Regions from separate parts of the Homo sapiens genome. Here region 1 is linked to region 2. Evidence: fine-mapped expression QTL. A gene starts in region 2. The other region holds a variant in brackets. All regions are shown on one strand. Distances are between the middles of the regions. Region 1 overlaps TPR (translocated promoter region, nuclear basket protein). Region 2 holds the start of PDC-AS1 (PDC antisense RNA 1).

Region 1 (4,412 bases), 74 kb before region 2:
AGGCGGGACTGCTAGACTTCACTTGATGAAGAAGAAAAAAACCAGCTGATATAATAAAGTACTTGGATTTAAACTGACTTCTAAATTATAACAGCAACAGAGATTTAATTTTGAAATAGGGATATATTTATATTCTTTTCCAACAAAAGGGAAACAATTTATCAGTTTAGAAGAGTAGATATAAATTCATTTAACTGAATTTCCTCCATAAAACTTGTTCAAGAAATCTTGACAATTTCCCTCAGTAATGTTAATAGTTGTACCATAAGGCAAAACATTCAGAGTATAACCTCTTTTTCCATCAGTATCTCTTAAAAGGAAAAAATCTTTATGAATTTCATTAACACTTCTAATAAGCAAATGAGCAATAACAAAATAATGCATATAGAGACACGCCAAATTGTGAAATGGTATAAAAAAGGAGTTCTACCTATGGTCAAACAATATTATTATTTCTAGGCAGGCTATTACAACTGTCTGATAAAGAATGATTATGGCAAATAGGAGAGTTTTATTACACAGAGATTATTTTAATTTGAAGAGCAGTTTTAGGAGATTTGGCTATTATTCTCTAGTTGAGAATCCTAAGGAAAACATAGTAAATGCATTAAAAAAAGGTTAAAATGCTTTCACAATTTTATATAAAAATTGAAATACATAAAAATTGCTAAATAAAGGTATGACGTTTTGAGATCAGCAGTGTTTAATAAGTTTCAAAATGTGTTTATTGAAAATCGTATTTAGATTTTTCTGACTCAATCACCTTAAGAAAAAAAAATACCTAGTAAATCATTTCTCATTTGTATTGTTACCACGGCTAAATTTTAGGAATGGAACCAACCTTCATAGCTTGTTCAAGCTTAACAGATAAACTTGCTACAGCTTTCTGTGCACGTTCATATTCCTCACGCTGGCGTTTCAAAATTGGTGCTTTGGCTTCCACTTCTTTCACTATTTCATCTAGGTACTTATTAATTCTTTTGTTCTCTAGTTTCTCCAAAAGCAACTGATCCTGAGTTTCCACATAAGCATTATAGAGCTGAAAGTAGACAAAGGGTTGTTTCAAATCTAACCATAACAACGCAAATATTTAGTTGATCTAGTTTCATAATAAACATTCTTTAACACTAACACAAAATGGCAATGTTTACTATGTTAGTTACACAGCACTAGGAACCAAAGAAAGCCTTTCCTAGAATGATCCACTAATTATAAGATGATTTTAAAAATAAGTTTTGGGAGAATTAAATTTTGAAGAGATTTGTATACATTTGCTGAAGAAAAAGAATTTAACAACATTTAATACCATTCTTACCTCAGTTAGTTTCATCCCAGGTTTCACTATCTTAGCTACAGCTGCTGCAGTAGGAGACATGGCGGCAAGCTCTTCTTCAGACAATATGGCTCCTGTGCCAACAAATACACATCTAGTATAATTTGTAAAATTCCAAACTAAAAGCCATTAATAATTTTTCAAGGTAAGTGACATGTACTGTACATTATATAGTAATTCCTATAAAAATTTTAAATACATGACATCAAAAAGTCATGTAACACATCTAATTCTAAAAAATCATGCAATAACCTGGGAATTTACAAGACTGTGTGTGATCAAATGGTATTTATATGCCCGATTCTGTAAAGATACAGGTAAGAGTATTAATTTTAAAACAAATTCTATTAATATAACTCGATGGAGTTTCCTACATCACAGCATGACAGATAAATACTATTAGTGAAATTAAATGACTTTTATGTAGGAAAGCTGTAGTATTTCAACTCACTAACAAGCATCTATTAGCCATACCTTTACGTTTTGTGGCAGAAAGAAGGTCATTTGCATTCTCTAATTCCTTCTCCAATCTCCCTATTTTCTCAAGCATTTCTTTTTCCATTTGATCTTTGGATTGCTCCACCTCTAGAAGATGATCTTGTATTGCTTTGTTGGCTAAAAAACAATTTTAAAGACCAAATATTCAAACATACAGTTAAAATTTTAGTTTACAAAATGCAACAGATCAGTCACTTCTCCCCTCAGCAGATAATATTAAATTTCTAGAGAGGCTTCAGCTGACAGTATCTATTGAAAGTTCTTGCTCTACTTATAATTTTGGAATTGTCTTCGCCTGGTGTTTCTCCTTTTGATGTCTCTTACCCACAAAGAAAATAAGGAAACCCAAAGGGTAAAAAGTGGTTCTAGGTATATCTTTGATTTCGATTTTGATCTTTAATCCTAAGTAAAGGAAATTATTGGAAAAGACCATAAATATAATACATTGAAAAAAGCAAAAATTTGAGGAAATAAAAGACTTTACAAAATGCAAATAAAGAGGATGTCTTATTTATAAAGTAAGAGTATTCAAACATTATCAGAGTAAATGTTTCAAAAAAGAAAACTTTCTCATTAGAAATCAGCAAATTATACAAGATTATTAGATAAAAAACAAACAAAACCCCCTGCTGTCTGTATTTTCAAAAATATATAAACTTACATTTGCTTAAGATATAATTCTGAATTTCCTAATCCAAAGTTCTTTCTTCTGTACCTAATTC[T/C]GTCCCAAATAAAGTCTAACACCTAAATCCAATCATCTATACAAAACAAGGGTAAAAAAAAAAAAAGAGTACAATAACAAAAATAATGTTCCCATAACTGAAAACACTTACCTTCACCAGCTTCTTTCAAAAGTTTGTGTAGTTCCTCTACTGCCCGGGTTAGTTCATTGCTCTTTGCTTCTGAGTCATCAGCGGCACTCTAAAAGTTAATCTTAAAAAGTTACCTAACAGTCAACAATGCAACATTTAGATACTAACATGTGTGGTGGGATATTTACCTTGTACAAATTAGAAAGTTTTATGTGGGCATTTAATTCATTGTGGAATTTCTCTTCCATACTGGCCTGTTGTTCCTTGGCCTGAAAAAAATAGCCCAATTATAGCAGTCTACTTTGAACTAAATTTAGAATGCTTATCAAATGACAAGATGAAAAATTCCATTTTTGTAAAGTAAGAGCTAAATCTAAAACACTCAAATTCAAATCAGTCTTCATGACAAAGATAAATTAAGGATAAAATATTACTAATATTTTAAATTCAAAGTAAAATAATTAAACAATAAAATTAACCCATACTCATTTTTTAGATAGTATTTTCAATATAACATATAATTGCTATTTCTGATTCTATTTTAGCCTAGCTACAGCATATGGAAGGAGGACTCTCACTGTTTTATGGGGCCAAGGACAGATTAAAAAATGACATCATTTTGTGAAATAACAGCTTCGTAAGTGCTTTAGTATTTTGTAAAAAAGACATTTTAATGGTCATATATACCTCTTTTAATTTGGTCAACAGATCCTCCACATGCTTTTGAAGATGTTCATTTGATGTTTTTAAGCCATTCATTTGTTCTTCCAGTCTAGAAACCTAAAAACAAAAAATAGAGCAGGGGGAAAGGATGTCATATTAACTGAAATTACTCTGACATGAGGTTTATGCTGCTAAGGAAAAGCTAAGTAACTCCCCCTCCCCACCTGAAAAAGCAATTAAAATATGCATATTTAAGAAAACTAAGAGTAACTGCTCACAGAACAATGTTTAGATTTAGCTCACAAAAACTTACCACCACTTCTTAAACAAACACATATTTTAGGAAAGATATATCGTAAGACAGTAGATACTAACCAGATTTGACAAAGAATCTTAAATTCTTTATGTAAACGCAATTGGTTGATTTTTTACGCCAAATGTAATGCATTATTCACATTTAACCACTCATCTTACAACTAATCAGGTACACACTACTGAATACATATTTAATAAACTGACATACAAATGTAAGTTATACTCAACATGAAGAAAAACACAATTTTACTAACTTACCTCTTCTTTTTTATTTTCAAGATTACATTTAAGCTCTAGAATCTCATTCCCTTTTTCTCTTCCAAGAGCCAGAAGTTCATCAGTTTTGGTTTTCAACTCTGTATTCAGCCATGTATTCTGACTATGTAGCAATTCCTTTTCTTGCTCCAAGCGTTTTTCTCGATACTAAAGAAATCCAAGAAAATAACACGTACAGTTAAAGATGATATATGATTATTCAAAAGATTTTGTCTGTAGCTAAGGGACACAAGCAGAATTTTATTTCAAAACAGAAATTAAGTATTTGCATAGATTCTTAACTAGAAAACATTAAGAACTGTAACAAACTTAAATTTCAAACAAGCAAAACAGATGAACTAGAATTGTCCTAATGCTTAATTTTCTGACATTAAAAACAAAACAAAATGCAGCTTTTAATTACTTTATTGCCTATATTTGAAATTTAATTTAGGTGAGTTTTAATAAAAAGCTATAGTTTATGCATTAGGAATCATCTGGTACTTGCCTTAACAGAAACATCAGAAGCTTGAAGT
Region 2 (4,412 bases):
GAACTCCTGACCTCAAGATCCATCCGCCTCAGCCTCCCAAAGTGCTGGGATTACAGGTGTGAGCTACCGCACCCGGCCAGATATTTAAAAATCTTATTAGAGAACCAATTTTTGGCATGTGAATTCTATCTATAAAATTTATATTAATTTATGCATGTACTTATTTCCTTATGTTTGTACTTTGTGGGTTTGCTTTATTTTCTTAACTTAGTTGGAAACTCAGGCCATTTGTTTTAAGTCTTCTTTTGTAATTTATGTTTTTAATAGTAATATTTTCTTGATGTTCCAAAGTTTTGATATAAAATACTCTTATTTTTTTTTAAGTTTTAAGAATTTCAGATTTCCAGTATAATTTATTCCTTGAACACAGAAGTTATTTAGATGTATGTGTATTTATTATTAATAGCAAATACATATTTGTAATTAATTTCTACTTAATTGCATTGTGGTCCTAAAGAGTAATTTGTCTTACAGTATACTAGTTCATTATTAACTTTTGAAAATGTTCCTTGTGTGTTGGAGGTGGAAAAGTGGCTACTTTACTAATTATTAGTTACAATGCTTTATTTTTATTATTTTATTATTATTATTTTGAGACAGAGTCTCACTCTGTGGCGCAGACTGGAGTGCACTGGTGTGATCTCAGCTCACTGCAACCTCTGCCACTTGGGTTCAAGCGATTCTCTTGCCTCAGCCTTCCAAGTAGCTGGGATTACAGGTGCCTGCCACCACACCTGGCTAATTTTTGTATTTTCAGTAGAGACGGGTTTCGCCATGTTGCCAGGCTGGTCTTGAACTCCTGACCTCAGGTGATCCACCCACCTCGGCCTCCCAAAGTGCTGGGATTATAGGCATGAGCCACCGCGCCTGGCCAGTTGCAGTGTTTTTAATATGTCCTTTAGATCAAACTTGTTAATTCTGTGGTTAATATCTACATAGATACTAATTTTTTGTTACGCGATCTAGCAAAGGTTCAAAGAACTGCACTGAAATTTCTGATGGTGGATTGCCACTTTTTTCCTGTAGTCTGTCAGTTTTTACTATGTATATTCTGTGACATTTTATTAGCCATATATATGTTTAAAATTTTTAGATCATCCTAGTGGTACTGTACCATTTTATAGTTATGTAATAATGTAAGTAATATTATGTATATAAGATATATTTCTATATCTAATAATGCTTTTTCTCTTTAAATGTATTTGTCTGATATTAATTGATACTTGCTTAAAGAATTGTATTTGCTAGATATAGTTTTTCCATCATTTTACATCTTGCTTTTCTGTATCCTTATGTTTTGAATGTATCTCTTTTGAATAGCCAATACCTGGGTTTAAAAAATGTCTAATTAGACAATATATACCTCATAACTGTTAAATTGAAATCATTTATGGTTTTTGTTACTATTATTATGTTTGGAATGATTGCCTCTTTAAATTCTTACTCTGGAACTGGAAAGAATGGTAAAATAACTCTGGTTTCAAATAGAAACTCCTTGCTGCTCCTTCAGAGAAAGCCAAATGGAGGTTTAAAAGTCCTTTCCATTTCCCTACCAAAACAAAAGCAACAAAAAAGAAAATTAAAAATCCTCATTCTCTGGAAATGCTTGAAGAAGGGAAAAAATAAATTGGAGATACAATGATTGGCAAAAATGACATCTTTATTTATTTTTAATAAAAGATAAATGTAATGTAGAGCCATGGCCTTATTCTTCTAAACTTCTGTGGGACTTACACAGTTTATTATGTAAGTCTCTGTAATTCAAGTTACCCGGAAAGTTCAATTTCATGTGTGATTATTATTGCCTATTGAAAGTGCATCTGATTTGTTATAACAGGAACCCTGTAGGGGAAATAATTGTATGTTGTTAGCAATGAATATATGTAAACCTTTAAAAATGAATTAATGTTTTTGATATAGCATGTTTAATTCAAGCTAGTCTGTGTTCAATTATTGGAAGCAGGGAGTGAACGCTCTAAGAAATAAAATAACCTAGGGTGAAACACCTTATTTTATGAAAAACTAATTTTTAGGAGCATTTTCTTTTATACTATGTAAAAAAATCCCTGAAAGATGAACAGACTTTGACAGCTGTTATAGGTGAGAGCCTCAAGTAAAGATAAAATTAAATGTTTTCCTTAAATGCTATTGCCCAAATAATGAATATCCATAATTGAAAACTGAGATTACCTTATACTTTGCTTTGTTCTCTCTGCCAGAGTCCTACCCACTGTATTAGTTGTTAGAGTTGTGGAACTTAACCGAAGCTTTCTCTGGATTCCAGGTAACTTTGTTCTTTTGTTTTTGTTTTTTTCCTGCAGAATCGATATATGGGCCTGAAATATATTAAGGTAGATCTTCTAATCTTAGATAATCCTGAATTTTTTTGTTAATGCATTCTTTGCATTGATGATTGCCAGTATGAAGTATGCTGTGATATGAAAAGCACAGGAACCAGGGATGGGAGGCCCAAGGTTAAATTCAACCTCTATATCTTCCTGGTTGCATAACCTGGACTAGTCAGCTAACCACAAACACTTCAATTTTGTCATCCTTGAGGAGGACATATTGAAAACATTGTTCTACCTACCTCATAGAGCAATTGTGTCTCGTAGTTCTTCCAGTGAGATAATGTATGTGAAATAATTATGTAACATAACACATCATAAAAATGTTGGCTATCTTTGGTGCAACAAAGCTATTCCACAGCATGGATTATACTGTCTTTACATCAATTCTTTAGTAATTATGAACATACATAGTATTTGACTTTTATATATGTTTCAGGAATGCAATATCTAACTTATTCATGAGGTACTTTATTTTCATAGCAAGGCATATAAACAACTACCTATGACAAATGTATTTGTTCTTAAATGATTTTTCAAATTTTTGTTATTAAAAGCACAGGAGTTACTGCAGTAGCACCTATCTTGAAAAGTCAAGTTAAAATGATTATTGTTTGTGTATATAATATATGTGTGTGTGTGTGTGTATTGTGTGTGTAATTTTTTCAAATCCAATTGTTGTAAAAGATAACTGTTTTGTCATAGAGCCTGCATATTTTTATCTAAATATATGTTCGTACCATTTTAGTCATTATACTCTTTTCACGTTTTAAACTTCCAGTTAGAGACCAAACTTTTGAAAATTGACTAGAGAAATGCTGCTGTTGAGTTTACTTTCTTCTGAAAGAATATCTTTTCCTGTAATGGGAGGTACAATATTTCTGTACAGAGCTACTTCACTCCCACAAGTCATAGGTCATCAAGAAGAGCATCTACATCCCCAAATGTTTCAGAGTGTAAGTCAAAAACTCTTACAATTCCACTTCTTTTCATGTGTCTCGTAGATGTTTTAAGAATATTTTCAGCTGCATGGCTTGACAGCCTTGGGATTCCCTCACACATTCACAGTCTTTTTTGGATCAGTCTGATGTGAGCATGAAAACTGGGAGTTGTGGAGCCCACTTAGGAAATGATTGCAATTGTCCAGGAGACAGATGATGGTAATTAAGTTTCCATCAGCCTGGAACTCAGGACAGAAGATACATATTCTGTATGTAGAGGTAAGCAGTTCTTTCCTGGGGATGATTTTTACCTTCCAGAGGACAGTCGGCAATGTCTGAGGATAGTTTTAGTTGTTGCAACTGAGGGAGGGATGCTAATAGTATCTACTGGTTAGAGGCCAGGAATGCTGCTAAACATACTATAATGCACAAGACAACTCCCCACAGCAAATAATTATCTGGTCCAAAATGTAAACAGTGGTGATTTTCAGAAGCCTCGGTGTAGATGGTACCTGAAGTCGTCAGAGGGAATAACAGCATCTGAAGTGTGAGGGAGGAGACTAATCCAGAAAAACACCAATAGACAAGGAGCATGCATGCCCCCGGTCACAGAAGCAGAGAAGAATCTGTAGAGTGGTATTATGAAAACCAAAGTGAGGAAAGAATTTCAATTTGGGATTGGTAATCAGCATTCAATGTAGCCGAAAGTTAAGTAAGATGAGGACTGTTGAGTCTAACAGGCTTGGTGGTTAGGTGGTGTATTGGATATTCTCCATTTGCTTCTTAAAATTCACGTTCTATCTTTCTCCATCCTGTTTTATCCCTAGAGAAGGTTGACTTAACAGACTTCATCAACAGGGTTCTCTTGTCCTCTGGCTTTCAGCTGGATTCTGACAATGAAAGGTTCTGAAAAGAGATAGAAGAGCACGAGGAGAGAGTGCAAGTTGTTTTTCCCTGAAGCTCTGTCCCTCCTGGGCCACAGAGTGACAGGGGCAGTGTTTCTCTTCCAAAAGCAAAAGCTCCTGTTGGGCAGCTTTTTCCTATAGCTGCAGGTCTCACTGGTTTCTTGCCCCCTCCAGGCCTGTGGGTAGGAGTCACTTTCACCTGTTAATAGGTGGTGCTT

What was found. PIP is the estimated chance that this variant, and not a neighbour inherited with it, causes the effect. A credible set is the group of variants that fine-mapping cannot tell apart.
Region 1: its variant is the best candidate, but not a certain one, in a credible set for the expression of PDC-AS1 in tibial nerve (GTEx, PIP 0.58).

What each region holds. Positions count from the first base shown.
Region 1 is chr1:186,358,958-186,363,369 of GRCh38, forward strand. TPR (translocated promoter region, nuclear basket protein) reads right to left here. Exons shown (of 51, transcript NM_003292.3): 5 at 4,385-4,412; 6 at 3,880-4,044; 7 at 3,331-3,423; 8 at 2,832-2,912; 9 at 2,665-2,752; 10 at 1,808-1,948; 11 at 1,316-1,407; 12 at 842-1,039. Among named protein-coding and RNA genes, the nearest start is that of TPR, 14 kb to the right of the region's middle. The variant T/C (reference allele first, on the strand shown) is at 2,554.
Region 2 is chr1:186,433,006-186,437,417 of GRCh38, forward strand. PDC-AS1 (PDC antisense RNA 1) reads left to right here and starts at 2,156. Exons shown (of 5, transcript NR_126002.1): 1 at 2,156-2,284; 2 at 3,353-3,568. It also overlaps a transcript of ODR4 not described here.